4 separate regions of the Homo sapiens genome follow, and all the other regions are linked to region 2. Evidence: fine-mapped expression QTL. A gene starts in region 2. Each other region holds a variant in brackets. All regions are shown on one strand. Distances are from middle to middle.

Evidence for each region.
Region 1: its variant is fine-mapped to the expression of FAM114A1 in whole blood (TOPMed, PIP 0.94).
Region 3: its variant is fine-mapped to the expression of FAM114A1 in whole blood (TOPMed, PIP above 0.99).
Region 4: its variant is fine-mapped to the expression of FAM114A1 in testis (GTEx, PIP above 0.99). The same link has a PIP of 0.9 or more in atrial appendage, breast, caudate, gastroesophageal junction, lung and ovary.

Annotation. Positions count from the first base shown.
Region 1 is chr4:38,889,880-38,896,049 of GRCh38, forward strand. It overlaps FAM114A1 (family with sequence similarity 114 member A1), which reads left to right. Exons shown (of 15, transcript NM_138389.4): 4 at 1,864-1,951. Among named protein-coding and RNA genes, the nearest start is that of MIR574, 25 kb to the left of the region's middle. RefSeq lists an enhancer at 1,064-1,233. The variant T/G (reference allele first, on the strand shown) is at 3,529.
Region 2 is chr4:38,864,337-38,870,506 of GRCh38, forward strand. It overlaps FAM114A1 (family with sequence similarity 114 member A1), which reads left to right and starts at 3,470. Exons shown (of 15, transcript NM_138389.4): 1 at 3,470-3,498; 2 at 4,062-4,210. It overlaps MIR574 (microRNA 574), which reads left to right and starts at 3,696; the gene lies at 3,696-3,791. It also overlaps a transcript of TLR6 not described here. RefSeq lists silencers at 3,234-3,713, 3,764-3,813 and an enhancer at 4,021-4,604.
Region 3 is chr4:38,834,799-38,840,968 of GRCh38, forward strand. All of the region lies in intron 1 of TLR6 (toll like receptor 6), which reads right to left. Among named protein-coding and RNA genes, the nearest start is that of TLR6, 19 kb to the right of the region's middle. The variant CA/C (reference allele first, on the strand shown) is at 2,924.
Region 4 is chr4:38,907,328-38,913,497 of GRCh38, forward strand. FAM114A1 (family with sequence similarity 114 member A1) reads left to right here. Exons shown (of 15, transcript NM_138389.4): 7 at 1,265-1,399. Among named protein-coding and RNA genes, the nearest start is that of MIR574, 42 kb to the left of the region's middle. The variant A/G (reference allele first, on the strand shown) is at 3,536.

The sequences.
Region 1 (6,170 bases), 26 kb after region 2:
TCAGCGGAGCCAGGACCAGTGACTGAGACTCCTTGGCCTTTCCCTTGAGGCAGCAAAAATGACTGCTTCAATTTGAAGCTTCAGGTCCACATTCAGGGCAGAAAAAAGAGAAGGGGAAAGAGTGGGCACTCGCTGTAACTATAATGTATCATGAAAGCAAAAACTTTTCCATTTATATATCTCATTGGTTGAAAACTGTTTCATATGGCCATCCTTATCTGCAAGGGTAGAAAATAACAAGGGAGGCTGGGCATGGTGGCTCACACCTGTATTCCTAGCACTTTGGGAGGCCAAGGGGGCGGATCATGAGGTCAAGAGATCAAGACCATCCTGGCCAAAATGGTGAAACCTCGTCTCTACTAAAATAGAAAAAATCAGCCAGGCGTGGTGGTGCGCAACTGTAGTCTCAGCTACTTGGGAGGCTGAGGCAGGAGAATGGCGTGAACCCGGGAGGTGGAGCTTGCAGTGAGCTGAGATCGCACCACTGCACTCCAGCCTGGTGACAGAGCAAGACTCCGTCTCAAAAAAAAAAACAAAAAAAAACAGCAAGGGAGTTGGGAGTTGGGGATGACTAATGGACCAGCTGTGAGTCAAAAGTTATGGAATCTACAAACTCTGTAGGAATTTTCCACTGCCTCCTTACTTTCTTTCTGCCCGCCCTTCCTTCTTTCCTTCCTTCCTTCTTCTCTTTTGAGTAAAAAAGAGCTATGATTCTCCATACAGGTAACTCATAGAATATTTATTCTTGCCTTGTTTTCTAGAATGTGTTCCCAGATAGAAAGAGAAAGCTGTGGTTCCCTACTTGAGTTAGGACTCATTGGTTGCAAGTAACAGAAACACGCATACCTGAGAAAATGGATGAGTTTCAGCCATTTATTCAACAAATATTTATTAAGCATTCATTATATTCCAAGCACTCTTCTAAGCTCTGAGAGTATATCAGTGAATAAAACATTTAAAAAAATGAACAAGAATATGAGAGAATCTCATAGAACCCAAAGATCAGAAAGCAGCAGGGCCTTCAGAGGGACAGAAACCAGGGACTGAGAAGCTGTCAGGAATCCAAACAGCAGCTCTAAGCCAGTCTCCATTCTGCTCACTCTGCCTTCTCTTAATTCTTAGTCTGCGTGGTGGATATAACAGGGTCATCCACATAGCCTGAGTTTTCAACTTCTGTTCATGCACACAGTTCACACTGAACCACAGTCTCTCAGTTCCAATTCCAAAAACCTAGGCAAACGAATTGGAATCCACTGAGGTCAGGGACAGTCTTATCCCTGTGTTATAGGAGTCACTATGAGTGAAGCAGGGCACCTTGAATCAAAGGTTTCTACCTTGCAAGCCTTCCTGTCACTACTGCCCATCCATCGCCAGGTGTATTGACGCTTTTTAGACACTTTGCCCATCATCCATGCCAAAGCACCTGCCTACTGCCCCAGAGTTTAAAAGTTAACTCTACCTTGAAGAGCACATTTTTTAAGCCCTGTAAGAATTGCCTGGGTCCAGATCATTTTGAACTTTTTCAAATCCCTCTTGTGCCCTCATGCGTATCTTTTTCCCATGCAGCCTTTTCCCTGTCTTCTAAATAATAAGAGAGAATCGAGGCTCAGTTAACATCAAACTCCCTTCTCACTTCAAACCAAGCCTTCAGAAGCCAACATCAGCACTAATCAATTTGGTTCCAAAGTACACATTGCAGTGTGGTTTGGGATATTCTTTTATGACCCTTATAAACTATAAGCCAATTAGATACGGTTGTTGGTGATTCTTTTCCAAACCTCCTCTTTGTTTCAAACCAATAGGTGTTTTTCCATTCAGAGATATACTGAATTTCTGACCTGTGGCTAATTTGTTTTTCTCCAGGCTGTGGATTCCCCTCCAAGTGGAGGAGGATGGGCAGGCTGGGGATCCTGGGGCAAATCTCTGCTGTCGTCAGCATCTGCCACAGTAGGTAAGCATTGTATGTTGCATTGGAATAGACAAAGTACCAAAGCCTAATAGGATAGGACGTTTTGATCGTACTGTATACTAATAGAGTTTAACATTAGCCCGTGAGCAAACCATGTTTAGTGCTTACTATTCTAAGTGCTTCATTTATTCCTCCAATACATTTGTTCCTCAAAATAACCCTATATGGAGGAACTGTTGTTTGCTGCACTTTACAGGTAAGGAAGCTAATCAGAGAGAGACTAAGACCTTGACCAAAGTCAGGAATGTCTGGGTTGCAATTTAAAAGCCAAGTAGTATGGCTTTTAGCCACTATATTATATGGTCTTTTAAAGTATAATATATTCTTAAAGCTTCGTGTTTATCGTCCCACTTGAATTTTTTTAGTGCACAACGCATCTACTCCCAAAAAGGATTTGAGATATCTTGATAAAAGGCATTTCATTAGCAGGATATTACAATATAAGGAGAAAACAATGTGCTGGTAGGGAGGATACATATTTTATACATCCCATGGCTAATAGAGTTTTTGTAATTGAGTATTGACCTCAACTCTGAGCTTCTTGGCTGCCAGTACATTATTTATTTCTCTTTGAAAACAAAATTTTAATTTAAATAAATATATTTTTCTGGTTTTAAATTTTTAAAGAAATTTCCTGTATTTGTTCTTATACAAAGAGAAAATATGATGGACAGTGTAGTGTCTTCCTGAGTGCAAATTTGTCATGATATTCTTCATGTTACCATTTCTTATATTCTCTCTTCATGAGAACTGAAGGTATAACATCAATATGTCTAAGATAATTTAGCAAAGGCATTTCATCTTGAAGGTGGAAGATAAGAAGATAGGGGAAGCCACAGGTAACAGAGTTTTCACATCATCCACTTCAGGTATTCTAAGGTGCAGTCCATGGCCATGAGGACCTTGCGATAGGCCATGAATTGGTCCACTTCACTGTTACTCCTAAAACCAGGAAGGTCTTCAGGCCTTTTGCCCCACCCCAGTGGACCATGACCACAGTGTTAAGGGCCAGATATCTAACTTGACAGAGCTTAGGCTGCCTGGAAGAATGGATAGATTGCATTCCTCTAATTCCATCTCTGTCAAATATCAGTTTGCTCAGGAAGGCTCTGGGAAGAAGTAGCAATGGCCAAATAAATGTTGACCTCTCTGGTAAGCCTGGAGAGCAGATTTTCTCTATTGCTTATTAAGGGGATGGCTATGCCTTGAGTACCACATATGCAGATGACAAATTTAACTAAATTCAAGTAGAGGCGCCTGTTTTGTTTTCTGAACAGGATGCTATCTCTTCACAAGGGTGAGGACAAGCACCTGCAGGCATCCTCTGTCCTTGGAAAAATGTTTGAACTTAGTGGCTATCAAAAGGATCTTGCCACTGGTGGCACTTAGAAGTGACATGCTTTCTAAGCCAAAAACTAAAAAGGAGGTTCTAAAAGATTGTTTTAATTGGAATAAGTCATGAAAAAGTAAATAATATGGTCACTAAAATTATACAGCTCTTCTCGTGGTTTATATCATAAAACAGTCATGTGTCCTGGATGTTTCCAGTTTTAACCGCA[T/G]CCAAACCACTCTGGTTTATAATGAATTGGTGGTTCGAGGGTTCTAGTATAGATGGAGGACTTACTCTTTCATTAAACTTTTAAATATAAGTTCCTGCCACAGTAAACACAGAAATCATCTGCTCTGTGGTAGCAGCTATAGGTGCTCTCTGTGCACACTTAAAGGTGCATCTCCCTGTAACTGCTCTAGCCCTGGTTGGTCAGACCATTTGCTGTTGTTTCTCATTCAGTGTCTGTACCTCATTTGACTTTGGGCTTTGTTGGACCCTCCCAAGGTTTTCTGTCCATGAACTGACAGCTCTCCCATTGAATTTACTATCCAGCACCTTCTTAGGTGTCTTGCTATAATCTGACCTTTGCACACATGCAGCTTTGGTTCCAGTGGATGGTGCTCCAAGGCCTCCGGGTTTTGTCACCTGGTTCACATGTAACCAGTAGATGGCGCTGACTTTACTGCTTAAAAAGTGGGATGTGGCCAGGCATGGTGGCTCACGCCTGTAATCCCGGCACTTTGGGAGGCCGAGGTGGATGGATCATTTGAGGTCAGGAGTTCAAGACCAGCCTGGCCAACATGGTGAAAACCCATCTCTACTAAAAATACAAAAATTAGCTGGACGTGGTGGTGGGTGCCTGTAGTCCCAGCTACATGGGAGGCTGAGACAGGAGAATTGCTTGAACCCAGGAGGTGGAGGTTGCAGTGAACAGAGATTACGCCCCTGCACTCCAGCCTGGGCAATAGAATGAGAGTATGTCTCAAAAAAAAAAAAAAAAAAAAAAAAAAGCAGGGTGTGATTTTTCACAGCAGGTCCCTTTTGACTTGATCCGACGTCATTGTCTTAATCTGCGGCCTGTGCTTGTGTTTGGGGTTGCTCTTAAAGTTTCTCTGTGTCTGAGCCACCATGCAGATAATAAATACTGCATCTTGTTACTCTCACAACAATTTATAAATTGTGATGGTTCGCATCTGGCTCTGAGTAATCATTGATCCAGAAGAGCCTAGAGAGGTAAATTCCTGTAGGCCATCATGAGCATTGTGCCAGTCACATGGTCACTGTGCCATGAAAAATAATATCCCGCTTTTTAAGTAGTAATGTCAGCACCATCTACTGGTTATATTTGAACCAAGTAACAAAACCTAGAGGCCTTGGAGCACAGTCCACTGGAACCAAATCTGCACGTATGCAAAGATCAGATTACAAAAGGACACCTAAGAAGATGCTGGATAGTAAATTCAATGGGCGAGCTGTCAGTCCGTGGATGGAAAAACTTGCCACTTTTCTTCTAGGGTGAGTAAACACGTGGTTTCTCTGAGAGTGTATGACATTTGCACATTCCTCATGCAATATCAGAATGAAGTTCAGTATACCCTCTTGTATTAGTTTCTGTTGCTATGTAAGGAATTACCACAGTTAAAGAGGCTGAAAACAACATGCATTCATTATTTTACAGTTTCCGTGGGTCAAGAGTTCAGGTATGGGACAGCTGCTCATGTAAAATAATGTGAGCTTAACAGGCTAAAATCAGGGTGGCAGCCAGCTGTATTCTCATCTGAGGCTCACTTTTACCTGAGGCAGCATGGCCCTGGGGTTGACACTATGCTTGTACATAATGGAAGTTGTTCCTCGCTTGCCTCTCTCAATCCCAAGATAATGGCTCAACATAGACCACAGATCAGGAAGGCACCCATAACTTTAAAGTCTCTGGAGGATAGGGTGGTGCAGCTAGAAGGGGGCCCAGAGTCGAAGATGAGGCCAGTGGCTCTGCCAGCTGCTCAGCTGGCACCTCTGCTTTGAAGACGTCATCTTTCAGGGTCATTCACGTTGTTGGCAGAATTCAGATTTTGAAGTTGTAGGACTGAGGTCCCTGTTTTCCTGCTGATTATTGACCAGGGCTCACTTTCAGCTCTTAGAGGCTGCCCTCAGGTCCTCCTTCAAAGCCAGCAGGAAAATCTCTCTCATGCTTCAAATCGCTACCTTCAGGAAGGGCCCCTTTGTTTTAAAGACGCTCCTGATTAGTTCAGGCGCACTAAGGATGATCTCTCTTTTGAGTCACTGAAATTCAACTGATCAAGGACCTTAATTACATGTGAAAATTCTCCCCATCATTGCTGGATAGAGTAACCTAATCACAGGGGTGAAATCCCATCCTGTTTACACTCCGGCTCACACTCCAAAGGGAAGGGATCACATAGGGTGTATACATCTGGGGACAAGAATCTTGGGGCCGTCTCTCAATACGGTCATGCTTCACTTAACAATGGGAATACCTTCTGAGAAATGGGTCGTTGGGTGATTTAATCATTGTGCAAACCTCCAAAGTATACACAGACCTACACAGCTAGGCTATGTGGTAAAGCCTATTGCGCCGAGGCTGCAAACATAGGACAGCTTATTACTGTACTGAATACTGTAGGCAATTGTAACACAATAATAAGTATTTGTGTATTTCACACATCTAAACATAGAAAAGGCACAGGAAAAATACAGTATTATGATCTTATGGGACCACTGTCATAGATGTGGCCCGTCGTTGACCGTAAGTTTGTCATGTGGTGCATCCCGCCTACCTTAATTCTCTTCTCGTCTCTGTTTGAGATCTTTGTCAGTTACACCACCAATTACAGAACCTTAGTATTTTCTATG
Region 2 (6,170 bases):
AGAAAGGTTATGTTGAATAAATGGTTGACCCATAATGAAGGGCGACTCAGCAATGTCTAGTAAAGGGGAACCAGCTATTCCATTTTTTTCCTAGATACTAAAAAATATATTCAAAGGTGGCAATTGTAGCATTATATGTAATTGAGTGAAATATGAAGCACAATAAAGTAGATCAATCGGGAAATAAATTGTGGCATATTCATGCCCTCCTATGAAGACTTTGAAATGAATGTGCTAGAGCTACATGTGTGAATATGAATGATTCTCAAAAATATAATGCAAGTTAACAAGTGTACAGGATGTCCTTAATATTCTAAAACATTGAAAAACAATTATACGTGCATTTGTGGGTGAGGACATATGCAGCAAACATTTAGAAATATGAGTGAGGGGGGCTGTGCATGGTGGCTCACACCTGTAGTCCCAGTACTTTAGGAGGCTGAGGCGGGAGGATTGCTTAAAGCCAGGAGTTTGAGACCAGCCTGGGCAACACAGCAAGACCACGACTCTACAAAAAAATTTAAAAATTTGCTGGGTGCAGTGGCACCCTGTGATCCTAGCTCCTTGTGAGGCTGAGGCAGGAGGATTGCTGGAGCCCAGGAGTCTGAGGCCGCACTGAGCCGTCATCACACCACTGCACTCCAGCCTAGGTGACAGAGTAAGACCTCATTCCTAAATAAGAAAGAAAGAAATATGGGTGGGAGGGATATACAACCACCTCAAGAAAATGGCTACCTGCAGAGATGGTGGACAATGGAAGGGATAGGGTTTCAAACATATCCGTAACATTTTTTTCTTTGCAAAGAAAATTCTAAAATAAATACTGCAAAAAATTTTGTTAAATCTAGATATCATCATAGTATTTCCTATATTTTTTACACAAATAAGTATTTGTCATATTATTCTTTACTTTTCTATATATTTTAAATACTCCAGAAAATTTTTAAATGAACTTAAAATGTTTTACATTGCAAATAAATAAAATATCTGAAATAAAATCTGGTAGTCCTGGAAGCAGCTACATGAGTAAAAGGGACAAATTTGCAGTGGGCAAAACAAAAAACAAACTTGTTGCCAGGATAGTTTGCTTTATTTTCTTTATTGGATAGGTGTGGTTTGGGTCAAAGGAGAAGAGGAACTCAGCCCTTTAAAAAGAGAACATCTGATTGGGCTGTTACGGCACAGCAGGGAAGGGAAGGCAGGTTAGCAAAGGTGCTTGCTGTCTCTGGGCAGGAGCAGAAGTCCCAGGCACAGACGTCTGTGTATATGCTACACCAAAACACACCTGTTGCAACTGGAACATAATTTGATAACACTCGCAAAGCCAGAACTGGAAGGGACTGTGCCGAGCAATGCTCTTTATTTTAGAGGTGGAAAAACTGAGTTACAGAAGCCACGTGTTAGTTAAGGTTCAAAGTCTCGCTCAATTCAAAAAGGCTATTGATCTCAATTTAAAGCAGTTTCCACCCACTCTCACATTAAGATAACTTTCTGGTTTTTCTATGAATTTAAAAATGACAGGCTGGGTGTGGTGGCTCACGCCTGTAATCCCAACACTTTGGGAGGCCGAGGTGGGCAGATCACTTGAGGTCAGGAGTTCGAGACCAGCCTTGCCACCATGGCAAAACCCTGTCTCTACTGAAAACACAAAAATTAGCCGGGTGTGGTGGCACGCACCTGTAATCCCAGCTACTCAAGAGGCTGAGGCAGAAGAATCGCTTGAACCCAGGAGATGGAGATGGTGCCACTGCACTGCAGCCTAGGCCACAGATCAAGACTCTGTCCTCCTAAAAAATAAAATAAAATAAATATTCAGTAGCTTAAAAAATTATTAATATAAAAATATTTAATAAAAATATTAAATAAGAAATATAGCCAGGCACGGTGGCTCATGCCTGTAATCCCAGCACTTTGGGAGGCCGAGGTGGGTGGATCACCTGAGGTCAGGAGTTCGAGACCAGCCTGGCCAACATGGTGAAACCCCGTCTCTACTAAAAAATACAAAAATTAGCCGGGTGTGGTGGCACGCACCTGTAATCCCAGCTACTCAAGAGGCTGAGGCAGGAGAATTGCTTGAACCCAGTAAGCAGAGGCTGCAGTGAGCTGAGATCACGCCACTGCTTTCCAGCCTGGACGACAGAGCAAGACTCCATCTCAAAAAAATGAATTAATAAATTAATTAATATATATATGGAAGAAACTGGAATATAAGGAGCAAACTAATTGTCAATAGGAGAATGATTGAATGAAATATAATTACAAACATATTGCAATATATAAGACAAGTCTTAGAAGAGTGGTTTTGGTTGATATGTATTGACCAAGAAAGATGATTATAATATATAATAAATAGGGGGAAATTTACAAAATACGTCAACATCTCGCCATTTTTATAAAAAAGCAAACAAAAAGCTGTTTATGCATACATGTATTTATATAAGCTTAGAAAAACTATGGTAGGATCCACACACTATAAAAAATGGTAGTGATATTGAAAGGGAGAGACTAGGGCTATTTTTTCTTTAACTTTGAATTTATAATTCTTCAAAAAGAAGAAGGGATGGAGTGAGAGAGGAGAAAATCTGCCTTAAACACATCGCTCAGAAAGAATCACTATTTTTAAATTGTATTTCCTCCGACTTTTATAGAAAATACAAAATTGTTTACAAAACTAGTTAATACTATAAACACTGCGCTTCCTCCGCATCTGAGTTCATATTAAGCCATATTTGAGGAAGGCCTTCATATGTGGCCTTCCCTCCATGTCAACGAATCCTCATTTTTAAGGGCTACAACATATTCGATGTCTGAAGTTACTGTAGCTTACTTCACCAATCTTACTGGGGGACATTGAGATTGTCTCCGGCTTCCCCCCGCAGAAACAACTACAACAAACATCCTTGTACATACATATTTGCCCATTTGACTGCCTACTTAGGACAAATTCACAAATGTGGAATTCCTAGGCCAAAGCTAATACATCGGAGTTTTAACCCACAGCTCCAAACTGGCCTTCTGGAAAGTGGGTTTTCGTTGTTTGTTTGGGGTTTGTTTGTTTTAAATCTATCACACTCCCACCGACAGGGCAAGGGAGTGCTGCTTAACGCAGAATCAGGAGATCAAACTTTAGCTGAATTTGAGCGACCTCTTCCCAGTGACACGGCGGGGGGTTTTCCAAGCCCTTTTAAGGAAAGGAAAGGGATCTGGCGAACCCCGAGACCCACCCGCCCTGGGCTGGAGAGGCGGCGCGCTCTGGCTTTCCGCGCTGGCACAGGGGTGGGACAAGCCAAGTTTCCAGGAGACTCGCCCAGCGCGGGCCCGGCCCTCGCAGCGTGGGGGTGGCCGGGCGTCCCCGCGGCGCTCCTCGTGGGGCGGGGCGCAGGCGGGGCGGGGCCCCCTCTCCAGCCGCCCGCCCTCCGGCCGCGTCCCCGCCGGCCCTGCAGACGTGGCGGGGCGGGACCCGCTGGGCACTCCCGCGCGTACTCGGCCGCCTGAGCGGTAAGAGCCCCGGGCACTCGGTCCCCATCCCCTTCCCCGGGGGGCGGGCGAGCGCGGGGGCGGCTGCCCGGGGGTGGTGGGAACACCATACCTTGGCGCCTCGTCCGGGACCCACGAATCCTGCCCTCTGCGTTAGTGAGAAGCAGTGGTCAGGGAGGACCCGGCTCTGGGGTGAGGGTCTGGGGCGGCGCGGCCGAGGGACCTGCGTGGGTGCGGGCGTGTGAGTGTGTGTGTGTGAGTGTGTGTCGCTCCGGGTCCACGCTCATGCACACACCCACACGCCCACACTCAGGGTCTGCCCCCTCGGCCTGCGTGAACCTCCGCGGAGCCTGCCTGGATCTCCCAAAGTATCCAGTCCTGGCACCAAGCAAGTCTGGAAAAGTGCCCCCAATGGCTCGGGGCCAAGTCAGAGGTGGGCTGCAGGGTCCCCCAGCCCGGGCACGAAGGGAGCAGGTCCCTGTAAGACAGAGGCCTCGTCCCAGGGTGCGCCTGCCCTCGGCCTTGGCACAGGGAGCTCAGGCCTTGACCTCCCCGCTCCCCTCGCCTTACTCCTCCCCCAACAGCCGACCCACGCCCTGCCTGCTCTTCCAGTCCAGCCAACACTCTAAGCAGGCACCGCCTCCACTCGCAGCCCCCGGGATGGGTCCCACTCCCTACCGCAGATCCCCAGGCCCCCTCCACCCAGTCGGCTAGCCCTCGCCTCTGCCATCCGGTGAGTATTTCCAGGCACCTCAGACCAGGCGCCTGAACGTCACTGCCTTTTCTTAAGTAGGAAGACATCTCTCTATGGGCTGTGAGAGCATTACCTATGCCCTACTGATCCCATCATTTCCCATCCTAAACATCTTGAAGGACACAGGCAGGTGGCTTCTTAAATCAGTGTGCTCTGAACTCCCTGTGACCTCAGCCAACCTGTGACAACTGAGAATGAGACAGGCTCTATCCTCAGAGCCTCTTTTTGCCCTCTCTGCAGCCTAGTGGCTCCTTCCCTACCCCACCCATAGGCCTGCGTCCCCGCCCTCCTTTCTTCCATCAAGCCTGAGCTTGGGAAAGAATCTGATAAACTTCTTACATTGTAACCTTTAAGTGAAGGAATGAGACGTTAGGGATGGATTTGAGGCACAAGTGAGACAGTGCAGAAGGAATTTGAGGGTTGGAGGGGGCTTTCTTGAATCTGAGCGATTCAGACCATAAAAGTAAACTTGTCTTTGTTTATTTGACCAGGCTTACATCAAACATGGTTTCTCTTTTATTAATATCAAACACAATGTATTTCAATTCAGTAAATATCTGAGGGACAGAAACCAACCTAGGTGCTGTTGGTCACAGTCTTGGAGGACAGAATGGCAGAAGTAAATACTCCATAAATACATGGAATAGAAATCTGTGCAAAGTGCCAAAAACATAGAAGAGGTAGCAGTTATTTCATTGGAAGCAGTGGGGCAGATTAAGGAAAAATTCAGAATGAAAGGTAACATTAGACACTGGGTGTCTAGAGGAATAGGAGTTTGCCAGGCAGCTGGAGGAAGGGCAGCACCGGGGCAGAGGAACCAGCGTAAGCAAAGGCAGGGAGATGTGAAGAGTTATGGGGAATGGAGAAAAGACTGGTGAGGCAGGAGTGGAGGATACTGAGAGTTGCAAGAGGTGGAGAGAGATTGGAGCTGGATTATGATGGGAAGTGTGAAGATATTTACACCTAATGGTTTTTGAACAGGAGAGCAAATAGGTCCAAAAATGCCTGGCAGCCTCACAGAGAATAGGCTGGAGCCTGGGTACGTAGACTTGTCAAGCTTTATACAAACTCATACAAACTGCTACAACCTGATTAAGAGCCTCTCATCCAGAGTTTTTATTCCTGGTCCTTCGCTGACTGGCACTGTTTTTGTTTTTTTTTTTTAACTGGGGGAGATGACCTCACACAGGATATCATGCTAACCAAATTTTTATGCTGCCAAGTCAGGCCATTTTTTTTAAAAAAATCCATCCACTGTCACTATTTCATAAAATGAAAGACATTTTAATACCAAGAAAAAGCACAAAGGCTAAACTTGAAAGATGAAGGCAGTCCTTTACATTTAATAAATTTAGATTTATGAAAAACTTGCAATCTTGTCCTCATTTTTCTCTATCATCACAGACTTGCCCCAGTCCTGCAGGTGGAGTTTGGAAAAAAAAGCATCCAGATCAGTTTGTCCATCCTAGCTTTACAGAGGAGCAGGTGTAAGCACAGTGAGGATCAAGTTGTGTGCCCACAAAGGGATACTGGGACCAGAGGCCACATCCCTTGACGCCTGCAGGACACAACTCTTTCCACCTCAGAATACCATCGCTCCCACCTCTCATCATTCCTCCATGCAGCCTCATGTCCTGGCCTCTCAGACACCTGTCCTGAATCACTACAGTCCATCGCTGATGCTTGGACATTTGCACATGCTCTCATCCCACCAGGCCTGAATCACCACATCAAAGACACTTTCAAGATTCTCCCTTGCACAGGGTCAGTCTAGTTCAGGCACATCTGTCCTTGATTTGCTGTGCTGTTTTGCATCACTTTTTAACTGTTTTGTGTTAGCTCCTCAAACAGATGATTGATTTCTGAAGGATAGTGACCATGTCTTCTGTTTTATACTTATTTTTGGAGCTGTGATGTTGCTGCTTAAATACCTTGCATA
Region 3 (6,170 bases), 30 kb before region 2:
TTCCATAATGAAGAAGAAATATTCTTTCCCAGACAAGCGACAACTGAGGGAATTCATCACCACTAGACGAGCCCTACAAGAAATGCTTAAGAGAGTAGAACGTCTGGACGTGAAAAGATTATATCTACCATTATGAAAACACATGAAAGTATAAAACTCACTAGTAGAGCAAATACATAAATGAAAGAGAAAAGAGTTGAAGTTACTACTACAGAAAACCACCAAAGTTCAATGATAAACAATGAGAGGAAGAAAGGAACAAAGGATATACAAAACAACCAGAAAACAATAAGCCAAATGACAGAAATAAGTCGTTACCTATCAGTGATAACCTTGAATGTAAAAAGATTAACTTCCTCACTTAAAAGATACAAACTAGCTGAATAGATTTTTTTTACTTACCCAACTATATGCTGCCTACAAGACATTCACCCCACCTTCAAAGACACATATAGACTGAAATTGAAGGAAAGGAAAAAGATATTCCTTGCTAATGGAAACCAAAAGCAAGCAAGAATAGCTATACTTATCAGATAAAACAGACTTTAAGTATAAAACTATTAAAAAAGACAAAAAAAGCCATTATATAATGTTAAAGGGATCAATTCATCAAAAGGATATAACAATTCTAAGTATATATGTGCCCCACACAGGAACATCCAGATATATAAAGCAAATATTATTAGATCAAAAGAGAGAGATAGACTCCAATACAATAATGGTTGGGAACTTCAACATCCCACTCTCAGCATTGAACAGATCATTTAGACAGAATATCAGCAAAGAAACATTGGATTTAAACTGCACTTTAGACAAAATGGACCTAACAGATATTTACAGAACATTTCATCTGATAGCTGCAGAGTACACATTCTTCTCATCAGTGCATGGAACATTGTTCAGAATAGACCATATCTTAGGCCACAAAACAAGTTTCAACAAAAGTTTTAAAAATTGAAATCATATCAAGTATTTTCTCAGATCACAATGGAATAAAACTACAAATCAATAACAAGATGAACTTTTGAAACTGTATAAATACATGGAAATTAAACAACATGCTCCTGAACAACCACTGGGTGAATGAAGAAATTAAATAGGAGGTAAAAAAGTTTCTTGAAAAAAATTAAAATGCAAATACAGCACACCAAAGCCTAGGAGACACAGCAAAAACAATGCTAAGATGGAAATTTATAGCAATAAATGCCTACATCAAAAAAGTAGAAAGATTTGAAATAAACAACCTAACAACGAACCTCAAGGAAGCAAGAACAAATAGAAAAGCAAGAACAAACACTTTCAAATGTTAGGAGAAAGAAAGAAATACTAAAGCTCAGAGAACTAAACAAAAGAGATATTTAAAAATAGAAAAGATCAATAAAACAAAAAAATTATTTTTTGAAAAGATAAACAAAACCAATAAACTTTTAGCTAGACTAACCAAGACAAGAAAAGAAAGAAGACCAAAATAAATAAAATCAGAAATAAAAAAGGAGACATTACAACTGATACCACAGAAATATAAAAGATCATTGGAGGCAATTATGAACACCTATATGTTAACAAATTGGAAACCCTACAGGAAATGTATAAATTTCTGGATATATACAACCTACCAAATTTGAGCCTGGAAGAAATAGAAAAATCTGAACAGACCAATAACAAGTAATAAGTTTGAATCAGTAATAAAACATTTCCCAACAAAGAAAATCTCAGGACTGGATGGCTTTACTGCTGAATTTTTAACAAACAATTAACACAAAGTTTTCTCAAACTATTCAAAAAAATTAAAGATGAAGGTATTCCTCCTAACTCATTCTACAAAGCCAGCATTTTCCTGATACCAAAACCAGACAAGGACTGGGTGTGGTGACTCACACCTGTAATCCCAGAACTTTGGGAGGCTGAGGTGGGCAGATCACCTGAGGTCAGGAGTTCAAGACAAGCCTGGCCAACATGGTGAAACCTTATCTCTACTAAAAATACAAAAAATTAGCCAGGTGTGTTGGCAGACACCTGGAATCCCAGCTACTCAGGAGGCCGAGGCATGAGAATCACTTGAACCTGGGAGGCAGAGGTTGTAGTGAGCTGAGATTGTGCCACTGCACTCCAGACTGGGTGACAGAGTGAGACTCAGTCTCAAAAAAAAAAAAAAAGAAAAAAGAAATCAAGAAAGCAATCTTATTTGCATAGCTACAAGACAATTACAATACCTAGGAATAAACTTAATCAAGAAGGCAAAAGGCCCCTACAACAAAAACTACAAAATACTGATGAAAGAAATTGAGAACACAAAAAAATGGAAAGACATCCCATGTTCATGGACTGGAAGAATTAACATTGTTAAAATGACCACACTACTCAAAGCAATCTACAGATCCAATGCAATCCCTATCAAAATACCAATGATATTATTTACAGAAATATAAAAAATAATCTCAAAATTCATATGGAACCAGAAAACACCCCAAATAGCCAAATCAGTACTGAGGAAAAGGGGCAAAGCTGAAGGGATCACACTACTTGACTTCAAACGATACTGCAAAGCAAAAGTAGCATGGTATTGGTACAAAAACAGATACATAGACCAATAGAACAGAATACAGAACCCAGAAATTAATCCACATATTTACAGCCAATCAATTTTCAACAAAGATGCCAACAACATACACTGGGGAAAGACCACTCTCTTCAATAAATGGTGCTGGCTTCATATTCACTCATATGTATAAGAATGAAACTAGACCCCTGTAAGAATGAAACTAGACCCCTATCTCTCACCATATACAAAAATCAATTCAAAATGGATTACAGACTTAAATGTAAGACTTGAAAGTATAAAACTACTAAGAGAAAACAGAAGAAATGCTTGAGGACACTGGTCTAGGTAAAGATCTTATGGCTAAAATTTCAAAAGTACAGG[CA/C]ATGAAAATATGAATAGACAAATGGGACTACATTAAACTAAAAACTTCTACACAGCACAGGAAACAATCAACAGGGTGAATAGATAACAGGGTTAAATGGGCGAAAATATTTGCAAACTATTCATCCAATAAAGACTAATAGCCACAATATACAAAGAACTCAAACAACTCAACAGCAAAAATAATAATAATCCTATGAAAAAGTAGGCATAGGATTTGAATAGACATTTCTCAAAAGAAGACGTACAAATGGCCAAGAGTTATATGAAAAAAATGCTCACCATGAATCATCAAGGAAGTGCAAATCAAAACCACAACGAGATATCATCTCATTCTAGTTTAAATGGCTGTCATCAAAAAGACAATAAATAGCAAATGCTGGTGAGAATGCAGAGAAAAGGGAACTCTTATACACTGTTGGTGGGAATGTAAATTAGTACAGCCATTATGGAGAACAGTACAGAGTTGTCTCAAAAAACTAAAAATAGAACTAACATACAATCCAGCAACCCCACTTCTGGATGTTTATCTAAAAGAACAGAAATCAGTGTATCAAAGGGATACCTGCACCTCCATGTTCATTGCAGCACTATCCACAATAGCCAAAATATGGAATCAACTTAACAGTCCATCAACAGATGAATGGATAAATAAAATGTGATATATATACCCGATGGAATACCATTCAGCCATTTAAAATAATTAAATCCTGTCATTTGCAGCAATATGGATGGACCTGGAGGTCATTACATTAGCAAAATAAGCCAGGCACAGAAAGGCAAATATTGTGTTCTCACTCATCTGTGGGAGCTAAAATACGCATCTCAGGAGGGTAGAGAGTAGAACAATAGTTACCAGAGACTAAGAGGTGAGTGAGGGAATGAAGAGAGGTTGGTTAATGGATAAAAACATACAGTTAGATAAAAAGAAAAAGTTCTAGTGTTCAATAACACAGTAGGGTGACTATAGCTAACAATAATTTATTGTATATTTCAAAACAGCTAGAAGAGAAGATCTGAAATGCTCCCCCACCCACACACAAAATGATGTATGTTTGAGATGGTGGATATCCTAAATACCCTGATTTGACACACGGTATGTATGTGTCAAATATTGTAGTTACCCCATAAATATGTATAATTATTTTGTGGGGAAGGAAAGAAGAAAGAAAGAGAAAAAGAGAAGGAAGGAAGGGAGGGAGGGAGGGAAGGAAGGAAGGAAGGGAGGAAGGAAGGAAGGAAGGGGAGGAAGGAAAGAAAGGAGGGAGAGAGGGGGAGAGAGAGAAGGAGAGAGAGAAAGAAAGTTAAGAAAGAGAGAGAAAGAAAGAAAAAGAGAGAAAGAAATAGAAAGAGAGAAAGAGGAAGGAAGGAAGGGAGGGAGGGGAGGCAAAGGGAGGGGAGGAAGGGAGGGAAGGGAGGGAGGGGAGGGAAGGGGGGGAAGATCCTTAAATCCATTTTGCTAGGTGAAAGAAGTCAGTCTGAAAAAGCTAAATACTATTTTATTTCAACTATATGATATTCCAGGAAAGGCAAAACTAAATAGACAAAAAAAAACTGCTCTAAAAAATAAAGTCTATTGATTTTTTTTTAAAAAAAATTAATAGAAATGGAAAAAGCATAGACATTGGACTTACTAGGCAAAGGCTTTAAATCAACTGTATTGAAAGTTAACTACGTGCTGTACTCAAAAAATAGTTATTCTCTTTTAAAGAAGAAGTTCTTTTATCCTTCCCCACCACCAAATATTAGACCAGCCGGTTTGATAATTTAAAAAAGCAGGCAAGAAGCCAGTCCCAAAAACTCCAAGACATACTCAGTAGTTTATACCAGTATCCAGTTTGGCACCAACTCAGCCATCTGCTGCAACCAGTGACCCTTCACGGCTGAAGGGTTAACAAATCCATTTCTCTCTTTCTCCATGGACTGATCTGACCTCAAGTTAACTTCCTAGCCCTATTCTGAAAACCTGAAACATGTAGAAAGTCAGCTGTGTACCAGCCAACATTACTTATTGTAACAATGATCCCTGACTGGTAAATTGCATCCAGGATGAAAGGACTGTGTATGAACTATAAGTACCAGGTAGAAAATTGAGCTTCTGAGTGTGGCCTATTGGGGCATTTGGGTATGAATGTTTAGTTGAGCCTGAGAAACCTCCGATGGGCACTCGACAGTGGTGCCAGTGCTGAGCTAGACTTTCAGCAGTGCTGATTATAATCCCGAAAGACACAATCCTGAAGGCTGAAATCCTAAAAGATCAAAGTCCCCAAAGTCTAAAATCCCTAATGTCCAACTGAATCCTCAAATCATAATGACCTATCACTTGATTTGGAATTAGGTGTGATCAAGGCTTCTAAAAGGGAATTTCAAGGTGTTACCAATAAAGTTTGTTTTCTTCCATTCAGCCCAATGCATTTGTCAGAAAATTCAGTTGAGAGGATTGGCCACATAATGTGGCAATGATGAAAAATTTAGTTTAAAAATACATTATTTGTCTGCACTGGCATTCCTTCTGGCTGATGAAATACCAGGAGTTCTCAATGAATTAAAGTTGCATTTGCCTAAAGCACCCAGTGAAGTTACTGACTGATTTGAAAATAATAATGCATATGGTAGGATAAGAAGACACAGGACTGGCGTGGTGGCTCACACCTGTAATTCCAGCACTTTGGGAGGCTGAGGCCCATGGATCACGAGGTCAGGAGTTCGAGACCTGCCTGGCCAATATGGTGAAACCCCGTCTCTACTAAAAAAATACAAGAATTAGCTGGGCGTGGTGGTGGGTTCCTGTAATCCCAGCTACTTGGGAGGCTGAGGCAGGAGAATTGCTTAAACCCGGGAGGTGGAGGTTGCAATGAGCCGAGATCGCGCCATTACACTCCAGCCTGGGTGACAGGGCAAGACTCCCTCTCAAAAAAAAAAAAAAAAGAAGACACACAATGCTGTTGTTGATTGATCACCAGTATTGTTTCTGCCAAATGTGTGGTCTGTATATGAGTGCATGCAGAATAGATTTTCATGTACCCAAATCAACACAGAAGCACGGCACTGAAGATGAGAACATTTAACAGGAATGCTCATGTTGGTGTAAATATGTAAATAGAAGCAGAGAAGCATTTCCAAACAAGCAGTGCCACATCGAAAATAAATGTGAATGTATTCTCTGAGGAGAACAGTGCCCTGAAAGAAATAAATCAGCTATTTGTTGTGATGCAAGACTTTAAAATATTAATAATGGTGAAAGTTG
Region 4 (6,170 bases), 43 kb after region 2:
AAGAGGGCACTATGAGTTTGTCTTCAGCAGCCTCACATTCCTTTCTGTGTTCTCTCCAACCTTCTTGACCCCTTTTTCCCAAGTTCCAGACACTACCCCTCCAAGTCTATCCTTAACACAAATCCCTGTGTCCTTTCTTCCACCATTTTATTCTCAATAAAATAATTTTTCATAGGATGTTAGCAGGCACTAAGTCAAATTACACAGAAGTGTGAATTGCTGCTGTCCCATCATCCCCCCGAAGTGTGCGCACTGAAAACTGATTTACAGCATGATTACTGGTTGGCTCCCAAATCTAAAAACAAAGTCTAAATACCCAAGATGAAAATAAAGTATATTAATTCTATGAAATTAAATACTTCTATTTAAATGATAATTATGAAGATTGGAAAATGCATATCAGTAATAATATCATAATAAAATACAATTTATATCATTTTTATATATGGTGGGGAAAAACACAGATGTATGCATATTATAATTGCAGTTATACAGTTGGAGTGTAAGTATGAAAGAGTTGCAAAGACATGTATGCAGTTCTGTTCACTTGAATAGTTTATGTGTGAGTAAGTCTGGGTTATTTTAATTTTTTAAAAAAAGCAACAATGACTGACAAAGGGATTTGCAGGAGGATAGCTATATAATACACCAGTTTCTAAAGCCAGAAGTACAAGGAAATCAACCTGTCTCATTTCATGGATATACTAATTATAGGCAGTTATTGCTAGTTTCTGAGAGTATGCAAGAACCATCTGAAACAGCCTGAGGGTCTTACCCTCCAGGGCCCTAGATTAAAGAATTCCCTAAATTAGCAGGACTGTTTGACATTTTAATAGACTGCTCCAAGCAACTCTGTTACTTGGGTTAAAAAAATTTTTAAACAGAAACAGCAATTTATTTTATGTTAATTTTATGTCTTAGCAATTTATTTTATGTTAATTTTATGTCTTAGATACACATCCATTCATACACAGAGAGCCAGTAAAATTAATCCCTTTGTGGGATTAATTTTATTTTATGTGCTTTGGTTTTTTTCTAAGCATCAGTCTTTAATAACATTGTATGTCCTACAAATTATATAACATATGCTTTTCCAAGGAAACGAGAATAGGATTAAATGGATGATAAATCTCCTGATGAGAAAAAATTGTGACTTTATATTGATTTTAATATTTGAAGATAGTGCCAGTTACCTAGGAGTTGCTGACTGCTGCGAAACAGCAAAACCTAAACATCTAATCTCATGCAGTTATCTCATCTGCAGGGTAAAAGTGTCTTAACTGGAGGCCTTGATGCGTTGGAATTCATCGGCAAGAAAACCATGAATGTCCTTGCAGAAAGTGACCCGGGCTTTAAGCGGACCAAGACGCTCATGGAGAGAACTGTTTCCTTGTCTCAGGTTGGATTATATACGTTTGCAATTTTTTCTTTCAGTCAATAAAGTAAATAAATTTTTTATTTATCTTTTTGAATAGCTCATTTAAAGCATGTGATTCAAATCAAATGACACCAAAGAGCAGAGAGAGAAAACTGAGCTTCTAATACCCCCATTTCCCCAGTCACTTAATTCCTCAGAGGAGACAACCAGTTAACAGTTCCTTAAGGATTCTATCAGAGACCGCAGAGAGATATGGATATAGATCTATAGATGCAGCTATACATAAATATACAGATGTAAAAGTACATATGTATGCATGTGGATAGACATGCACATAAATACACACATATTTTTTCAACCCAGTGGTAACATACTAAACACACTCTTGTTCCTTGCTTAATTCACTTAATATTATTTCTTGAAGATGATCCATTTATGTCATGGTATGCATCCCATCTCTACCACTTAGTAGCTGAGTGACCTTGGGCAAGTTACTTAGCCCCTCTGTGCCTCAGCTTACTCATCTGTACACTGGGGATAATTTAAATACCTACCAATAACTTTGTTGTGAGGATACGCTGAGTTAGAATAGAACCCAGCTCTTAGTAAGCATTCAGAAATGTTAGTTGTTGTCATTGCCGTTATTATGTGTCGGTATAATAGGTGGAAATGGTATCTCATTGGAATTTTAAATTCTGTTTCTCTTGATATGTGCAAGGATGGTCTTCTCCTCTCACACTTCCAGCACTAAAGTTTTCCAGCCCTTCTTGCAAAACATAAAACAAAGAATTCAATCTGTCTTTGCTTACTTACAATAGTTAAGAAAATTGGAAATAATATTAGTCTTGTTTTCCAAATATGACTCTAATATTAAACTTACTTTTCCAGATGGAACATGCCTAGCTTACCCCACAATCCAGGCATGCCCCAGTCCACCTCCTCCACGAGAGACTGATACACCAGGTCTCTGTGCTTTCCTGAAATCAGAAGCAGCTGATGCAGCAGTGGATTTTGTAAACGTCACAGGCAGGACTTGGTACTAGGAACCCATGAAGGTTGCCTTCATGAACAGCTATCACTGAGAATATGTTCATGGCAACCCCTAGAAGCTTTTGTTTTAGGCTATTTCTTCTTGTCTCTTCTGGAATAACCCAAGTATGAGCACTCCGATGTTATAGTCCAGGGAGGGACTTTGCAGGATCATCTAGACCATCACCCTGCTGCTCCTTGAAAAAGAAAATAGATGGCTGGGCACAGTGGCTCATGCCGGTAATCCCAGCACTTTGAGAGGCCGAGGCGGGCAGATCACCTGAGGTCAGGAGTTCGAGACCAGCCTGGCCAAGATGGTGAAACCCTGTCTTTACTAAAAATACAAAAAAAAAAATTAGCCGGATGTGGTGGCGAGCACCTGTAATCCCAGCTACTCGGGAGGCTGAGGCAGGGGAATTGCTTGAACCAGGGAGGTGGTGATTACAGTGAGCCGAGATTGTGCCACTGCACTCTAGCCTGGGCAATAAAGCAGGACTGCATCTCAAAAAAAAAAAAGAAGAGAAAGGAAAATAGATTAGTATTAGTTAGGTAATTAGCACTAGATGTCATGAAAGAACAACCACCCCTAAGTATCAGTGTGGCTTAGAACAAAAAGGTTTACCTTTCGCTCTCACAAAGTGCAGCATGAATATTCCTGCTCACACAGGAGCTCGTCCCAGGGGGCTCTCATGGCTAGCACACTTCTGAGCCCACATCTTCTGGCCTCATCATCTTGAAATGCCTTACTTCCAGCCTCACAGAGAGGGGATGTGGAAGGCAATATCTGGTATTTCAGAAAGTGACGAGCGAGTGCCATGGGGAAAAAGACAAAGTAGAACAGGAAGAGGTGATGAGGAATCAGAAATGTGGGTGTGAGGGGCAGGCTGAGTGTTAAGTAGGATAGTGAGGGGGCCTTGGGCAGATGATGACATGTGAGCAAATCCTTGAAGGAGATGAGAGCATTGGCCATGCAGGAACCTGAGTAAAGCTCATTCCAGGCCAAGGGAGAACTCACGCAAAGGCCCTGAGTCAGGAGTGTCTGGCATGAACACAGAACAGCAGGATGCCCGTGATGGAGAGGAGTGGGCTCCGGGCGAGAGCTGTTGAGGAGGACATCAGAGTGGTGAT[A/G]GGGAGTAGGTGATAGCAGATCATGGCAGACATTCGTAAGGACCTTGGGTTTGACTGTTAGTGAAATGGGGAAACCATTGCAGCATTTTGAGAAAAGAAGTGACAGAATCTGATTTGTGCTTTAACAGGACCACTCTGGTTCCTGGGTAGAAAATTGGCTGGGAGGACCAAGGGCAGGGAGACTGGTTAGAGTGACTATCAGTCTGTGCCCTCCCAGAAACAGACACCAAGATGGGCTTAAACATGCAAGGATTTCATTAGGGGAAGTGCTTGTGTGAGAGAAAATGGGGAGGGAGCCCAGGAAGGCTGGGAGAACCATTAGACCAGGATGCCGGTCCCACCCCAGTGAAGAGAAGAGGGTGAGAAAAATGGGTGAAAGTGTCCCAGACTGCAGTGCGGCATGGGAAAGGCTGGGCGAAGCCATGGGAAAGCCCTTCAGCCAAAGGCTGCTGACAAAGGAGACCTCATCTTCCAGGAACAGGTCTGCCTTAGTGCCCTGCTGCACCAGTGATTGACAGGGAAGAGCTGTGGGAGGCTGAAGGCTGGATTTCGAAGTCCAGCATTTATGCTCCCAGGAGTAGGAGGGAGGTCTGCAGGTTGCACTGTCACACCCTCCACTGGAGGCAATTGCACTTTCAATTGCTGTTATCTAAACAAGAGATAATGGTGGCCCTGTGCAGCATGGAGGCCTTGTAGGTAGTGAGGAATGGCTGATTCTGGCTATAATTTGAAGATAGATCCAGATCGCTTGTTGGAATGAATGTGAGCTGTGAGATAAAAGCAGTTGTCAGGGATGGCTCCAAGGTCTTTCGGACAACTGGAAGGATGAAGCTCACATATTTTTCCTTTACACACTAAAGAAATATATAACTATGGAAACTAGAAGCGTGCACGCGTGCACTACCTACATTTCTCACGTATTTTTATCCTAGTGGCACAGGGAATACTCTTTCTTTTTCTTTCTTTCTTCTTTTTTTTTTTCTTTTTTTTTCTTTTTTCTTTTTTTTTTTTTTTTTGAGACAGAGCCCTCACTCTGTCGCCCAGGATGGAGTGCAGTGGCGCGATCTTGACTCACTGCAACCTCCGCCTCCTGGGTTCAAGCAATTCCCCTGCCTCAGCCTCCTGAGTAGCTGGGATTACAGTGTGCACCACCACGCCCGGCTAATTTTTGTATTTTTAGTAGAGACGGGGTTTCACCATGTTGGCCAGGCTGGTCCCGAACTCCTGACCTCAAGTGATCCACCCTATTTGGCCTTGAAAAGTGCTGAGAGTACAGGCATGAGCCACCGCACCCAGCCAAGCGCAGGGAATACTCTTTAAATAACACGGGGACAGGGGGTCCTTGGATTCCACACATGGAAGTCTCCATAGCTTCTCTGTGTCAGGAATTCTTCCAGGCCAGGATCATTCCCTGCTATTGAAACCCACTTCCCTTTCTTCTCTAGTGGGAAAATAGAACCAGCCTCCGTTGTCAAGCTGGTTATCCCTCAGGCAGCTTTAATTTCACTCCCCAGTTGTGTTTTGTTTGTTTGTTTGTTTTGAGATGGAGTCTCACTCTGTCACCCAGGCTGGAGTGCAATGGCGCAATCTTGGCTCACTGCAACCTCCTCCTCTTGGCTTCAAGTGATTCTCCTGCCTCCCTCCTGAATAGCTGGGATTACAGGTGCCCGCCACCATGCCCAGCTAATTTTTTGAATTTTTAGTAGAGACAGGGTTTCATCATATTGGCCAGGCTGGTCTTGAACTCCTGACCTAGTGATCGGCCCACCTTGGCCTCCCAAAGTGCTGGGATTACAGGCGTGAGCCACCGCGCCTGGCCTACTCCCCAGTTTTGAGTGAGTCCACATCTTTCCAGAGTGACCCTTTCCCTTTCTCTTCAATTTCATCCCTTCTTTTTTCTCTCCCGAAGCCCACATTCGGAGGTGGAAGCTGGTGTAGAGAAAGGAAGTGATTTCAGTGTCACTTTGTTATTTTATTTTACCACCACCAAGTCCTGAGATCAGTGCGGGTAATTAGTTTTTATTGCCAGTGTTAAAATTTTCCAGTGATGGTTTCATTGGGTTGTTTGAAAAACTTTAAGATTCAGAGTCTGTGCTAATTTAGTCTTAAAGACAGACAGGAGAGAGAATTCTCTTTGCGGCCCTGTGGGTTCTTGGCAGATAACCTCGAGAACCCAGAAGGAAATAAGGCTGATTGTTTTTCTGGCACACAATAAAAACCAAAGTCTATTCTTCAGTTGTCTTCCCCTGTGACCTTGTGGTGGTGGCCAGTGTCTTTACAGTGCTTTCCACAGAAATTAAAGAACCCCATACACGTAATGCCTCAGTAAACTTAATGAGGAATCACATAAAAGATGCTTAGAATCAAAAACGCAAGTGCAGAAAATTGAGAGTGACTGATGGACTTGTGTTTATTTGTTGTCTTTTTGCTTAACCAACAAAAAATAACTGGAGAAAAGTTATTAATGGGGAGAGGAAACTTGGTTCACAGTCATATTTCTGGAAACCAGACTTAAGAATCTATAAGCTAATGTTCTTTTTTGTTTTTTTGTTTTGAGACCAAGTCTCACTCTGTTGCCCAGGCTGGAGTGCAACGGCGCAGTCTCGGCTCACTGCGCCTCCGGGTTCAACCTCCG